Linked DNA regions of Homo sapiens: region 2 is linked to region 1. The links come from fine-mapping of genetic effects on gene expression. Tissue or cell type: whole blood. Region 1 holds a variant in brackets; the other region holds the start of a gene. All regions are shown on one strand. Distances are from middle to middle.

Region 1 (8,105 bases):
AATCACTTGAACCCGGGAGGCAGAAGTTGCCGTGAGACAAGATCGTGCCATTGCACTCCAGCCTGGGCGAGAGTGAGACTTCATCTCAAAAAAAAAAAGGTCAAACACTCTTCTTCCATGAAATCCTTTTTACTCTCCCTGCCCCCAAGGTTCTTCACAGAAGAAAGAGTTGTCTATCTCAGCTCATTGCAACCTCCGCCTCCCATGTTCAAGCAATTCTCCTACCTCAGTCCCTCGAGTAGCTGAGATTACAGGCGCCCACCATGTCCGGCTAATTTTTGTATTTTTGGTAGAGACAGGGTTTCACTATATTGGCCAGGCTGGTCCTGAACTCCTGACCTTGGGTGATCAGCCCAGCCCGCCTTGGCCTCCCAAAGTGCTGGGATTACCAGTGTGAGCCACTGCACCTGGCCATATTTTATTTTCTTGTTTGACATCACTGGGACCTTCCTAATTATGCATGGATTGGGTTAATATTAAAAGAAGTTTATAAAGCTAGGCATGGTAGCTCACGCCTGTAATCTCAACACTTTGGGAGGCCAACACTGCTCAAGGCCAGGAGTTTGAGACCAGCCTGGGCAACACAGTGAGATATTATCTTTAAAAACTATTTTTAAAAATTAACTGGGCATGGTGGCATGCACCTATAATCCCAGCTACTCAGGTGGCTGAAGCTGAAGGATCACTTGAACCTAGGAGGGTGAGGCTGCAATGAACTATGATTGTGCCACTGAATTCTAGCCTGGGCAACAGAGCAAAATCGTTTCTAAAAAAATTAAAACTGGTGGGGTGTGGTGGCTCACTCCTGTAATCTCAGCGCTTTGCGAGGCCAAGGCAGCAGGATCGCTTGATCCAGCAGTTCAAGACCAGCCTGGGCAACATAGTTGGGTCATATAGTGAGACCCCATCTCTATTAAAAAAAAATTAATAATAAAAAATATAAATTAAAAAAAAACAATTTTGTATCTCTGAATATAAACCAACTAGATGATATACATTTTCACTGAAAGAAACATGACTGGGTGACAGAATTAAGTGTTCTGAAATATGCAGACAAGAAAACTCAAGACAACAGTATTTTAGTTAACAAGAAACTCAGTAAAATTTCTACTCTGTGTTTACACAGACATTTGTTTGTGCCCTCATGACACACTTATCACATTCTGCCTCATATTCTGGGCATTCTTAGTGTTGCTAGATGTCTGTTTCACCTACAAGTCTAAATAAGTTCCTTAAGGCCAGGAACTGTACCTTGTTCATTACTGTGTCCCCTATAGTGCCTACACATTAAAAAGTGATTGCCGAACTGCCTCTCAAATGTTTCTGCATAACTGATGTTTGAAAAATTCATAAGGACTGGGCATGGTGGCTCACGCCTGTAATACCAGAACTTTGGGAGGCTGAGGCAGGTGGATCACTTGAACCCAGGAGTTCAAGACCAGCCTGGGCAACATGGCAAAACTCCATCTCTACAAAGAAATACAAAACATAGGCCAAGCGTAGTGGCTCACGTCTGTAATCCCAGCACTTTGGGAGGCTGAGGTGGGTAGATCACCTGAGGTCAGGAGATCGAGACCAGCCTGATCAACATGGTGGAACCCCATCTCTACTAAAAATACAAAATTAGCCGGGCATGGTGGTACATGCCTATAATCCCAGCTACTTGGGAGGCTGAGGCAGGAAAATCACTTGAATCTGGGAGGCGGAGGTTGCAGTGGGCCAAGATCATGCCATTGCACTCCAGCCTGGGCAACAAGAGTGAAACTCCATCTCAAAAATAAATAAATAAATAAATAACCAGACATGGTAGTACACATCTGTAGTCTTGCTTACTTGGGAGACTGAGATAGCAGGATCACCTGAGCCCAGGGAGGTCGAAGCTGCAGTGGGCCAAGACTGCACCACTGCACTCCAGCCTGGGCAACAGAGTGAGACTTCACCTTGAAAAAAAAATAAGGAAACATTCATTACCTGATATTTTACCAATGGAAGTAATTCTGGATATAGAAGTAGCAGAAGCTCTAAATATATAATTAGGACCAATGCCAAAGTTAACAGCAATTAAGCTCAATGTGCCAAAAGAATTTCAATTAACAATAATTTCTGTAATTTATGAGTTATTCTTGTTACATATATATATTTAATTGCATTTTGAAAGAGCTATGAAAGCTAAAAGTTGTCCCATCTTCAAATGCTCAGTATTTTACCTTGCTACAGAAAAGGAAGTACAGTAGAAAGTATACAGGACAAAGTAAGGTGGGAGATCCAGATTTTGGTCACAGTTTTTGTTTACCAAATATGTGACCCTGGGTGAACTTATGAGGGCCACAGAACTCAAGTTTCTTTACCTTCATAAAGAGGATAATACTACATGGGCTACCAAAATCAAAGCTGTTATAAGGATCAAATGGCTTAACATGCTTTGAAAACTGTGAAGTGTTCTACACTCCCGGGCTGACTGACCATTTGGGAAATTTTAAAATATTCCTTCTAGAATATAAGGAAGGCTTTTTATTTTTGCTCACTGAACTTTCTTCCTTAATCATGATTTCGCTTTGCCTCCAATCTTACTGTCCTTCCCTTTTTTATTAAACATCAATAATAACAGTAATGAAACTTTCTTTAATTTTAATTTTTTATTTTTGAGACAGGGTCTCACTCTGTCTCCCAGGCTGGAGTACAATGGCACAATCACAGCCTCGAACTCCTGGGCTCAAGCAATCTTCCTACCTCAGCCTCCTGAGTAAGCTGGCTCCCTCCTGGGACCACAGGCGTGTACCACCTCGCCCAGCTAATTTTTGTAACTTTTGTAGAAATGAGGTTTCCTATGTTGCCCAGCCTGGTCTCAAACTTCAGAGCCTGCTTCAGCCTGCCAAAGTGCTGGTATTACAGGTGTGAGCCACCCTGCCCAGCCCTTTACTTTCAATAATAGTAGCAACAGGAACTTTGCAGTATAAGGGACTTTTCGGATATAAGAAGTTAGGTCACTGAGTATTAGGATAACTGATAATGGAATGATTTTCTAGGGTAACCTAATTCTTAGTTAACTAGATATTTTGAGAGTTAACTCTAAACCATTCAGATTACTTGAACAAACACTGATAGATCTCCTATCATGAATGAGAGGCCCCAGGGACACCAAAATGAATTAGATCCAGTACAAACTTAGTGGGAAATCCAGTGGGGAAAAAGATATATAAATAATTTTCAATTATTCAGGGACACATTAACTGGTTTTCTGATGGGCCTGTGTGAGGACTAATTGTTTCAAAACATAGTCTATGTAAAAACTGATTGGATGTGACTTCTCATTAGCCTAGGAGCTGGGTTCCTGCAAGGCAAAGAGGAATCTAAGAAGTAAGAGTAAGGGTCTTTCTCCCAATTCTCAACAACAAAAATGCTCCTAGATAATCAAAAGCTGATTGCAGTTTTGTTGTGACTTATTTTGGTTTATATCCAAAGTCTCTTAAGCAATGTCCTGTTCTATTTACTGAATTCTAAGTTGATTTTACTTTGAATATAATGTAATAAATGTTTCTATGTTTAGGGCCCTAAAAAATGGGAGAGTGGGGCAAGCAAGGAAGCAGGGATGGAAAGCTTCCTATAAGAGCAGGATTTGGTGGCCAGGTGCGGTGGCTCATGCCTATAATCCCAGCACTCTCGGAGGCTGAGGTGGGCAGATCACTTGAGGTCAGGAGTTTGAGACCAGTTTTGGCCAACATGGTGAAACCCCTCCCCTGCTAAAAATACAAAAATTAGGCCAGG[C/T]GCAATGGCTCACACCTGTAATCTCAGCACTTCGGGAGGCCAAGGCAGGAGGATCATTTAAGGTTGGGAGTTCGAGACCAGCCTGGCCAACATGGTGAAACTTTACCTCTACTAAAAATACAAATATTAACCAGGCCTGGTGGTAGGTGCCTATAATCCCAGCTACTCGGGAGGCTGAGGCAGGAGAATCACTTGAACCTGGGAGGCAGAAGTTGCAGTGTGCCAAGATCATGCCTCTGCACTCCAGCCTGGGAGCAAGATCCAGTCTCAAAAAATAAAATAAAATAAAATAGAGTAGGATCTGGCAAACTTTTGAGCATTCTATTCAACAAAGGTGTTTACTGAGTAAAATATTTTCCTCGTCTCAAGCATAACAAATTGCCTATTTATTACTTTACTTATACTCCATTCTTCAAATAGCTCTTTTCTCCCTAATTCAATAAGCAAACTTTCAATTACAAATGGTGGTAAATAGGAAATAAGAAAGAAGAGACAAAGGTCAAGGTCAAGCAGAGTTGTATTTAAAAAGTCAGCTGCACTTGCATGTTTATCAGAGCACTATTCACAATAGCGAAGACATGGAAACAAGCCCATCAATGGTGGACTGGAAGAATATGTGGTGTATATGCATACCATGGATTATTACACAGACATTAAAACAAATAAAATCATGTCCTTTACAGCAACACAGATGCAGCTGGAGGCCATTATCCTAAGTGAATTAATGCAAAAACAGCCAAATACTACATGTTCTAACTTACAAGTAGGAGGTAAACATTGGGTACATATGGACACAAAGATGGGAACAATAAACACTGGGGACTCAAAACAGAATGGAGGGATGGAGGGAAGAGTTGAAAAACTACCTATTGGGTACTATGTTCACTATTTGGGTGACGGGTTCAGTTGAAGCCCAAACCTCAGTATATGTAATACATCCACGTAACAAACCTGCACATGTACGCCCGAATCTAAAATAAAAAATAAAAATAAAAAGTTGGCTCACATAGTTTAATATAAAAAGGCAAACCTACTGTTGCCTTCTATACATGTCTACTTTAGAAATGGAAAGCTTCCTATAAGAGCTGTTTATAAGAGCTATAAACTCTGTTTACAGACAGGAAAAGGAAAAAGAAAGCACAGTTGGCTGAGAAAAAAGACTTTAATACTCTATTTACTTATTTGGGTCCATGCTTTGACTGTCAAACATGTATTAACAAGCTTTCGAGAAAATACTAACTATATACAGTTCTTTAGAAAAGAAAGGCAGAAATTACATTTCATTTTTTTAAAAATGGCTAGGTACATAGAAAAAACACAATGACAATCCACCAAAATATTAACAATGATTATCTTTGGAAGATGGGACTGTGAATTTACCCTTTATTCGCACATTTTAAGAAATACTAAAAAAGTAATCACGCCACTGCACTCCAGCCTGGGCGACAGAGCCAGACTCCGTTAAAAAAAAAAAAAAGAGAGAAATACTAAAAAAGTAATACATGTAATCGAACAAGAGAAAGTTACCCTTGACCAGTCCCTTACTCCTGCCCTCAGCCAAATCCCAAGAGTGGGCTACACAGATAACCACTGTTTGGTCCAGACCTTTTACCTCTGCATTTATGCATATGCACACATGCATATGATGGATCATCTTTTAAACATACAAATAAGATCATATGATAGATATATATAGATGTGGTTCTGACATGCTTTTTTTGTTTCTATTTGGAGATCTTTCCATGTCAGTAACAGCTACATGACAGTCACAGTTCAGATGTACCATAATTTATCCATTCCCCTCCCCAACCCACATTTTTTTTTAGAGGTGGGGGTCTTGCTATGTTGCCCAGGCTGGTCTCAAACCCCTGGCCTCAAGCAATCCTCCCACCTCAGCCTCCCAAAGTGCTGGGATTACAGGCATGAGACACCACATCTGACCTATCCATTCCCCTTCTGACTGACATTTAGGTTTTCTCCCACTTTCCATTGCTGCAAACACTCCTGCAAATTACAGGCATATACAATAACTAAATGCTTTAAATTTTCTTAATTCTTAAAAGTTTAAAAGTTTTTAAACATTAAAAAAAATTTCACTTACTTTGGACTGGAAATAAATGTTTCAAGATAGTTCTCTTTGACATCACCCATTTTACTGCAGCTACAGCCATGGTGTTTCAAGATGCTTATCAAGTGGTATGAAAAAAGATGTTCTGAAGAGAAACTGCTTTTAGAATCTGCTTCTAAGCATACCAATTTCTACTCCTGCTGAAGAGATAAAGAAAAATCAGTGCTACCTATGGTAAATTTAAGTTATATTAAACACCACAAGAACAAGGTAAGAATCACTGCCTAGAAGTCAACTGAAGCAATGCTTTTAAACAACTTGGCAATTCCACATGATTGAACAACAGGACGAAGAGCGACATGGACAGAATATAAGATCAGAACCACTGGAACTATGTCCATTACTATTTATCTTAGATACAAACTTCTCTGCAGGACCCAGTGCAGCTCCTTCCACTTAATGAATACTCAGTAAATGTGTAATTACTCTTGAAACAGTCACTCACAAATGGTACACAGAGTATTCATTCTTTTAATGCTAGTGTGGCTGTGTACACCCTCCAAGGTTCCATACACAAGATACTACATCATTTACAGTACTATCCTGTTTCTGATTAAATGAAATAGTTGTCTGCCCTGAGCCATTAATAATAATAATAATAATAAAGAAATATCAAACAAGGCCTATCCTTAGCCTATTACTCAATTGGAGGAACTCATAAATGCCCTCAAGTCCCAGATAAAATTTCACCATCTTATATGTGTACAAAGTCTTTAACTTTCCAACGTACTTTCACCACCATTTCATTTTGCTCTCGTATTAATCATGTGAGGTATCTTTATTCTGATTCATGAAGAAACTAAAGTACAAAATTTAAACGTCTTGCTTCCAAGGACTTTAGAGTCAGTCACTGCCAAATTGGGAAACTTTAAACAAGTCATTAACTAAACGATCCTCAGTTTCTCCAATGACAAAATGGGGAAAACCACAATCTTCATGGCCTGTTGTGAATAAATGACAAATAACCATTGTTAAATCTTGTTTTTAATAGTCTTCAATGAGTATCCGTGCCCTTCCCCCCAATAGTGATAAAAGAGAATTAGGACACAGGCCCTCTTATTTGCTAGTCTAAACCACTCACACTGATACCTTGCACTGCCAGTACATTAACACCGTTAACCCTGAGCTCATAGGTGTGCTTTTTAGTTTACAACCCACTTTCATATACAATATGTGCTCTGACTTTCACAAGTGTGTGAAGCAGCATCTCCATTTCAGATTAAGAACAAAGGCTCAGAGAGGTCAATCGATTACTTGCTCAGTATATCGCTGCTTAATACATGCGTGGGACGTAAACCCATGACTTCTGACCACGAATAAAACATCTTGGGGGAAATTAGGTCCCCTCTGTCCGAAGCCCAGAGAAAAGCACGCCCTGCTGGGAGTCAGATTATTCACCCCAGGAAGATCATTTCAGAGATCAAGTCCCTCAGCCCGGAATTCAACCCCAAAACAAAAGCTACAGAGCCTCTGAGGGTCAGAGGTTTGAGGAACAGGCTACCAAGAGCACCAGAACTCTTCGACCTAAAGGAGTCCCTAGAGCCACAAGCTGCATCACCTCCCCACGGGCGTCCGCCAGGGAACAAAGGGGGCGCTATAAGAAACGCGCAGCCACATGCCGGCTCTTCTGCAGGAAGGACAAAGGCTGGGGATGCAGGCAACCTCGCCCTGCCGGGAACGACAGGCGGGAGACCTCTACAACTGCCGACCAACACTGTGGGACTGCCCAGTTTCGAGGAAGTCCTCGACAGGAGGAGTAGAGGGAAGCGGTTACCTTGACGGCTTCTCACCACGAACCCGCCATCTTGTTTCAATCCTGGTCCCACGAAACAGCGCTGCGCGCGCCGTCCCAGCCCGCGGGGCATTCTGGGAAATGTAGTCTCCGCGGGAAAGCGGCCCGGGTGCAGAGAGAAAGGGAGGATTGTTGCTATGGACTTTTACCTTTAGTTGGGGAAGCGTGGCCGCAGTGTTACTAAGGTGCCCAGAAAAACAAAATCACTGCCCCAAACACATACCCTTAGAAAGTAACAAGCTTTTTTTTTTTTTTTTTTTTGTGAGGCAGTCTCATTCTGTCACCCAGACTGGAGTGCAATGGCTCCCTCACGGCTCACTGCAGCCTCTACCTCCTGGGCCCAAGAGAGCCTCCCACCTCAGCCTCCTGAGTAGCTGGTACTACAGGCGCACACCACCACACCCAGCTAATTTTTTAATA
Region 2 (8,105 bases), 29 kb after region 1:
GCTGAGGCTGCAGTAAGCCATGTTTGCACCACTGCACTCCAGACTGGGCAACAAGTGAGACCTTGCCTCAAAACATTTTATTTTATTTTATTTATTTTTTGAGGCCTAGTTTAGCTCTTGTTGTCCAGGCTGGAGTGCAATGGTGCCATCTCGGCTAACTGCAAACTCTGCCTCCCAGGTTTAAGCGATTCTCCTGTCTCAGTCTCCCAAGTAGCTGAGATTACATGCATGCACCACCACACCCAGCTAATTTTGTATTTTTAGTAGAGACAGGGTTTCACCGTGTTGGTCAGGCTGGTCTCCAACTCCTGACCTTGAGTGATCCACCTGCCTCAGCCTCCCAAAGTGCTGGAGTTATAGGGGTGAGCTACTGTGCGTGGCCAAATAAAATTATTTTATTGTTTATATTGAAGGTATACAACATGATGTTATGGAATATGTCGTATCAATAGTAAATAGGTTACTATTGTGAAGCAAATTAACATATCCATCGTCTCACATAGTTACCTATGTTTTTGTGACAACAGTAGCTAAAATCTACTTATTTAGCATGAATCTCATACATAGCGTAAACTTATTACCTATAGCTCTCATATACATTAGCTCTCTAGGCTTGTTCTCATGTACATTAACTCTCTAGACTTGTCCTAAATATCTGCTACTTTGTACCCTCTGATCTACATCTCTGATTCTCCATCACTCCACCCCACAACCTGCTCCAGGTAACCACTGTTTTGTTGTCTATCTCTGTATTAGAGTAAATAGGATTCTTAACTAGCCCTCTAATTTGAGAACCGTATCTCAGCCCTGTGACAACCTGTTCTTCTAGAGTATATCCTGTTCCACAGGATTTATATGAATCGGAAGTTCAGATTTTCGTTTCCAGATGAGTTTAGTGCGAGCTGTCCTCAAGAGGGGAAGAAAACAGAAAAAACAATTTGGAGAGACAGGAAAAATGTATATGTTAAAGTGTTAATACTCTCAGAGAATTTTATGCCATCAAAGCAATCTCTACCAAACAAGGTTATACTATCAAGTTTTAAAAATCTGGTTTCCTAAAGAAAACTACACATGGTTCTATCAAATTACAAAAAATAAGTGATTGCTAAGTGCTGTGTACTGTTCTAAGTACCTTATACAAATTACATCATTTAAACTTCCCAACAACCACATGAAGGTAAGTATATTTAATAGGTGAAGAAAACAAAGGACAGAGAAATTAAGCAAAGTGTGTTTTCAAACCCCGACTGGGGGCTCCAGAGCTCTCACTCTTAACCTAAATGATACTTATTGTCTGTTCTAATAGAAGATAGACAAAAGGAGGCCAGGTGGAGTGACTCACACCTGTAATCCCAGAATTTTGGAAGGCCGAGGCAGGAGGATCACTTGAGGCCAGGAATTGAAGACCAGCTTAGCCAACATGGTGAAACTCCATCTCTACTAAAAATACAAAAATTAGCAGGGGGCAGTGGCACACGCCTGTAATCTCAGCTACTCTGGAGGCTGAGGCAGAAGAACTGCTTGAATCTCAGAGGGAGAGGTTGCAGTGAGCCGAGATCATGTCACTGCACTCCAGCTTGGGTGACAGTGAGAGACTCTGTCTCAAAAACATAAAAAAAAAAAGCACCTGGCACCTCTTTTTGTTTTGCTTATTGTTTTTTTTGTTCTCGTTTGTTCAGAATTTTTTGTCTTCAAGTGTTAGTATCCATCAAAATTACCCCTGATGTTTAAATGCAGATTCCCAGGTCTCAGCACTGACCTAGAGAATTAGAATCCCTGGGGGAAGGGCTCCAGCTGCAGGAATGCTTTTTTTAAAACAAAACAAAACAAAACAAAAAACAGTGCCCTAGATGATTCCAAGGCGGGTGGCTGGTAAGCATACTCTGACAAATATTGTACATGTGGCAGTTTCTTTCCCAAAATTGGCCACAACCATACTTTCCATCACATATATGCTGCTAGTTCCTAGAGTCTTGCAGCTCCCCTTTCAAGAGGTGGTGTCCATGTTCCCTGCCCCTTGAGACAGGGTGAGTTTTGTGGCTGATTGACTGATGGATTATGGTTATTGTGATGCCATTTGACTTCCACGAGGCCATGTGATTTCCACGGCTGGGTCAAAAAAGGCGATTTAGTGTCCATTTCAGCTTGCTAGAACACTTACTCTTGGAGCCCAGCCACCATGCAATGGGGAAGCCCAAGATGCCCCAGGGAGAGGCCCACTTGGAGTGAAACTAACAGCCAGCACCAACTTGCCCGCCTTGTGAACCATCATGGAAGCCAATCTTCTGGTTGCACAGGCTGATGCAGCACAAGCAGAGTGTGCCTTCCTGCCAAGCCCTGCCCAGACTGCAGACCTACACACTCCCAACACAATAGCACTCTGCCTTTCTGCCTACCAGCATGAATTATCCTGGGTCCTCTATAAAATATTCTGAAAAGTATCTTTGTCCAGTTTCATTTACTTTTGCAGATTCTTCTAGTCACAGAACCACCTATTGCAGACTTCTGGTTATTTGAAATTCTCATTATTACCTCTGAACCTTGGCTTCTCATCTAAAACGTTCTGTTAATAATAGAGACTACTTCATCTGTTTCATAATTGAATGATGTATTAAATTTATTAACCATTTAGCATCGTGCCAGCACAAAATATTTCTTATTGTTCTTAGTAGGTTTCTTGTATTCAGAGTTCCAGTTTCTTTAGTGCACTATTTTTTCTCTCTCATAGCTCAATGCCATTTCACAGGCCATTTCCTATGCTTGGCATACTCTTCCCTACAAGGTCAGGTAGGTTCTTACTCATCATTGAGGACTTCACTTATTTAAGAAGGCTTCCCTGAGTTCTCAAGCAGTTAATGCCTCTCTGCTAAAATAGCACCTTGGAGGAACCTGTATTACAGACAGCCCTTAACACATTGGATTGTAACTAATTGTTTACTGGTCTCTCTTCTCCATTGGAATCTAAGTTCCTGGAAGGCACGGTCAGTCTTGTCTTCATTTATTCACCATCTACTGTCTGTTAGTGTGCTAGGAAACACTGTGGTTAAGTAGTTAAGGGCCAGGTCTTGGCGGATCTGCCTGGGGACAAAACAGCTCCTTGGAAAAGGTTAACTATCTAAGCCTCATTTGTAAAATGGAAACAACACCTCCTCACGATTGCTGTGAAGATGAAGTAAAGTGCTTGCAAACAGTCCATCACACAGCAAACCATCCGTCATCAGGATAAAACGCTTCCCCAACAATTCAATTTTCGGGCACCCCCACTCTAATTCTCTCATAGGACCTCGCACTCTATAGGTAATCTCTGCTTTACGGATTACTCTGGGTTCTTTAAACCTCTCCTTGGTCATTCGTCCTGTTAACAATTCTGAGTCTCAACCTTTAGGTCTAGGCGTTCAGAACCATTCTTCCCGCCTCCAACTCGCTCCAAACCCTTTTCCTTCAGCCTACCCTGGGCCTAGGGGCGTGTCAGAGGTCCGATTTATACAATTTAAACATCAAAACTCCCCCAACAGCGTGTGAGTAACTGGAGAGACCCCCAGTCAGAGCTTTGCCACCGAGTTTCGGTCTTGCCCTCCCTTTGAGGAAGGAGCAAGACGATGAGCCCCACCTCAGTCGTTCACTGCAGAGCCAGCAGGGAACGCGCGCAATGCAGGCTGAGCTGAAAGAACGAACGCGTGAGCTGAAAGAACGAACGCGTGAATGAATGAATGGGATACGTCGTAGGCCAGGCCTCTGTTACGTCGTCCACCGGCGCGGGCGTGGCCACGGTTAAGAGAGACGCGCGCGCAGTCGCGCGCGGGTCGTGCCGTACCACCGTCGCGGGCAGGCTCGGCCACGAGCGCCAGAGCCCCGCGCCTCCCCTCGCGGCCTGTCCCAAGTCCCTGCCCCGCAACAGAGCGTCACTTCCGCCATCCCCGGCAGCGGTTGGGGCGGGGCGCACGGGGGAGGGGGCCAGGTCGGAGGGAAGCCCGCCCGTGCCCGAGCCCGCGCCCGAGCAGGGACTACATTTCCCGAGGGGCCTCGGCGGCGGCTGCGGCGACGGGCGCGGCAACGTCCCCCGGAAGTGGAGCCCGGGACTTCCACTCGTGCGTGAGGCGAGAGGAGCCGGAGACGAGACCAGAGGCCGAACTCGGGTTCTGACAAGATGGCCGGGCTGCCCCGCAGGATCATCAAGGTAACCGCCCAGGCCGGCCTCCAGCTCTTCGCTCTGCTCTCGTCGGCTCAGCTGGGCAGGCAGCGCGGCCTCTCGCCTCCTTCGGCCCGCGGCCCGCTCTGGGAGGCCCGAGGCGGCGCGGAGAGGGGTTGGCCGCGGCGGCGAGGGAAGTCGGGTGCTGAGGAGGGGGCGCCGGGGAGACTTCCGGCCGCGGCGGGGCAGCCGGACAGCGGGGACCCGGGGCTTCCAGGCGGCTGCCCGGCGGGCCAGGGAGTGCTGTCCCACGCCCCGGCGGAGGGTGGGGCGGCAAGGCTGGGGGTCTCTGGGCTTGGGCGCGGGCCTCCATAGCTTCTGAGACCACCCCCCCGCCGGAGGCCGCGGGCGCGCGGGAATCGCGGCGGGGCTCGGGCGCCTGGTGGGGATTGTGGCCCGACAAGGTCCCTCGGCAGCCAAGCCCCTCTTCTCCGCCCCGACGGGGCCGCGGAGGTGCGGCAACCGCGGGTGCAGAATGAATGAACCGGGAGGGTCAGGCCGGGCGGGGCCCTGCGCCCCGGGAAGTGGCTCTGGGAGGCCCGCGCGTCCTGCCGCGGTCAGCACATGCTCGCCCCTGGTTGCCGCGGCTGCCTGGGTCCCGGGACGTGGGGGCCCCGCGCCCCGCTGCCCTTGCTTCCGCGATCTCTCTCTTCTGAATACGTTTCCGCTCGTTTATCTCTGCGAAGTGATTTTACTCTGGTTGGCAAACTCTTTCAGAGCTGTTCCGAGGAAATAGTTTTAACACAAGGCTGGGGGAGGGCCGCAGTTATGGGGGATTCTCTTTCTCTCTCCTCTTCTCTCCTCTCCTCTCTTTTTCGTAGATATGAGGCCTCGCTATAGTGCCCAGGCGGCTTCCAAAACTCCTGGCTTCAGAGATCTTCCTACCTTGGCCTCTGTGGGGGATCTCGTGAAATCTTTTGCCCCTCAATTTTGTGCGTTTTAATTATTAATTGGCTGTTTATGAATACTGTGTTTTGACAAGTATGTATGGAACCATGACATTTTCGATTCTTTGATTTTGTAAAGTCTTAAGGAAATATCGACAAGTCTTCAGACGTGAGATATTCCTTGTCATCACAACAACTAAACCTTAAATTTTTGTGTCGGTTTTTATGAAGGAAATTAGTTGCACATTTATGTGACTAAATGCGCCAGTTAAAGTGACTCAATTGCAGCATCATTTTGCTTGATATAACCTGGTGAACGTGTATGTTAATCTTGCTCATTCTTGTGAAATCTGTGGGGAGATGCATACTAAGTGGAAGACCTGTTAGGCTTCGAGGATGATGTACTGTATACTGCTTCATCCAATTGCATTTAAATATATCTGAGATGAGGGAGATGTCACTGACCTAAGGGTGCTGATGTAGAGAAATAAGACGTTTTTGTATGGTAGAAATTCTTAGAAATGAGAGAAGTAGAACAGATTGTCAGGGAGCACTGGAGTCTAATAATGTGAATCTTCATAGTCCGAAATTTGTTGTGTGTGGATTTATCTAGGATTCTGTCCAAGGAGTTTTAATTGTCATATGTATTGGCAGGTCCGTACAACGTGGTTTTAGTTATAATGCAGTCACATGGTCCCCAAAGGTCATGTTTATTGAGGCCCCAGTTGAAAAATGAATAGGGAGTGATAGAGCCATACATCAAATATCCTTGTTTTCGTTGTTACTTAGGTTATTGACTAAGTACATAATGCAAGTTGACATTCATGATAATTCTCTGAAATACATAGTGAACTAAACATTTAACACGCATTTTTCTATTTTTGATTATGAAGATATGCCCAGTAATATGAAAGCCTTGGATGAAAAAATAAATTCTGTGGAACCTTGTTTATAAATTTACAGAAATGGTTTAAGGCAATAAGTTGAAGTCCTCATGATTCAATCCATTTGGCACACAGTAATTTACACTGGGCATTTACATTTTGCTGTTGAAACTAAGACAGTAACTCATACTGTGATATATAATCTTAATTTTACGGTATCTTGTTGACAACATCTATCTAATGAATGACACCTTGATTTGGGTTTTATCTTACTAGTTTAGTGTCATTTATAGCTTAAAAGGATGGTTTTCTCTAATCCTTAAACAGAAGACTAAAAGACTAGATTTTTAAAAGTGTCCATGCTTGTGTTATGTAGGTTGTTCCATAATCAGTGACAATGCTTTAAAAAAAATCAGAATTTATTTTTAAAAGTTGCCTCTTTTCTGTCAATCACTATACAAACTTCTGTGTGGTGGATGGGGGTAACGGTATTGTCCTGAGGCAATAGGGACATGACTTTGTTGATTGGACTGTTAATTTGTTTTATTTCTGGGTGATCTTTGACTTTCTTCTTTTCTTTCTGTTTTCTTTTCTTGAGACTCGTCTCACTCCGCTCCCAGGCTGCAGTGCAGTGGCAGGATCATGGCTTACCACAGCCTTGATCTCCTGGTCTTAGATGATCCTCCCACTTAAGCCTCTTCAATAGCTGGGACTGCAAGGTGCATGCCACCACACCCAGCTAATTTTTGTAGGGACGGGGTTTCGCCATGTTGCCCAGGCTGGTCTCAAACTCTTGACCTCACACAATCCACCCATTTCAGCCTCCCACAGTGCTGGGATCACAGGCGTGAGCCACTGTGCCCCGCCTGACCTTTGACTTTCAAAGGATGAAATTTAGTGTTGATATAACATCAGTGTTAGCATTCTCATCTAATGAAAATGTTAAAATAAGGTGGCTTGATTTGCATGACTGTTAATATGATGCTTTCTAACTTATAATGATCACTATTTACATTTGTAGATTTCTTAACCATTTGATTCTTACAGACATTTTTGTGAACTAGACAATATATTTTGCAGTCTAGAAACTGACTTAAATGACTTTCCTAAGGTAAAGCTGGTAAGAGGCAGAATTTGGATCTTGATTAGTGTAACATTCCCCTGTCTCTTGTTACTGTAAAATGACTAACTACAAATACAAGATGATTTTCTGGACTACTATTCACCCAGTTGCTATCTCATTTAGATTCCTGTATCTAATCCAGTAGCAAATTCTGTAGGTTCTGCTTTCAATATATGTACTAAATCAGACACTTTCCCCCCTGTCTTTCAAACCTCTGTTCACTTCCATCATTTACTGCCTGGCCTCCTGTATTAGCCTACTTTGGAGCAGCAGCTAGTGTTATCTTCTTAAAATATAGACCATGTTACTCCCCTGCTAAAAACTGTAGAGGTTCTCCATCACACTTACATTAGAATCTTGCCTTCCCCCCCACCCCTTAGCTATAAGGCCCTGCATTCATTTGGGATGCCTACTTCTGAGCGCATCTGCACTTCTCTCTCTGGGTCACTCCACTGTAGCCACACTGTTGCTTTGCTGTACCCTGAACAATAAGTGGTTGAGCTTATTCCAGTCACAGGACTTTCCTCCAGTTTGTTGCATTGCTTGCTTTGTCCAGTTGTTCCGTTCTTAGCTCATATGTCATACCCTCTACCTAACCTGTCCCGTATAAACCAGTTTCCCTTTTTCCTCCCCCACAATTTTATCCTCCTATCTCCCTTTCTTCTGTATAAGTGCTTATTACTGTTCGAAGTTATGTTATTTACTGTTTATTTCTCTCTATTCCCCATTAAACCTTCATGAAGTTAGGGACTCTTGGATATCCCGGGCATTGCTCATTCGTGCCTAGACCAATCCTTGGCACATAGTAGATACTGAAATATTAATAGACTAACTGAATAGATGAGCCTTAATCTCAATGAGCAATAATTTGACATTGTTACTCCTTGGTATATTCTGTCTGAACCAATGTCTGAGCTAAAAGTTAAAGCTAGTCTCGTTTTCCACCCATAAGCTCACTTAAAAAGGACATCAATCTTTTACATTATTTCTTTTTTGTGTGCCTACTCTGCTTATGTATCTTT

Evidence for each region. PIP is the estimated chance that this variant, and not a neighbour inherited with it, causes the effect.
Region 2: it holds the start of UBE2N, and the variant in region 1 is fine-mapped to the expression of UBE2N in whole blood (TOPMed, PIP 0.99).

Annotation. Positions count from the first base shown.
Region 1 is chr12:93,467,117-93,475,221 of GRCh38, reverse strand. It overlaps MRPL42 (mitochondrial ribosomal protein L42), which reads right to left and starts at 7,708. Exons shown (of 6, transcript NM_014050.4): 1 at 7,668-7,708; 2 at 5,867-6,030. The coding sequence starts at 5,936. RefSeq lists enhancers at 7,487-7,756, 7,817-7,876. The variant C/T (reference allele first, on the strand shown) is at 3,766.
Region 2 is chr12:93,437,927-93,446,031 of GRCh38, reverse strand. It overlaps UBE2N (ubiquitin conjugating enzyme E2 N), which reads left to right and starts at 4,085. Exons shown (of 4, transcript NM_003348.4): 1 at 4,085-4,177. The coding sequence starts at 4,148. RefSeq lists silencers at 3,680-4,139, 4,220-4,429, 4,580-4,719, 4,750-4,869 and an enhancer at 3,550-4,187.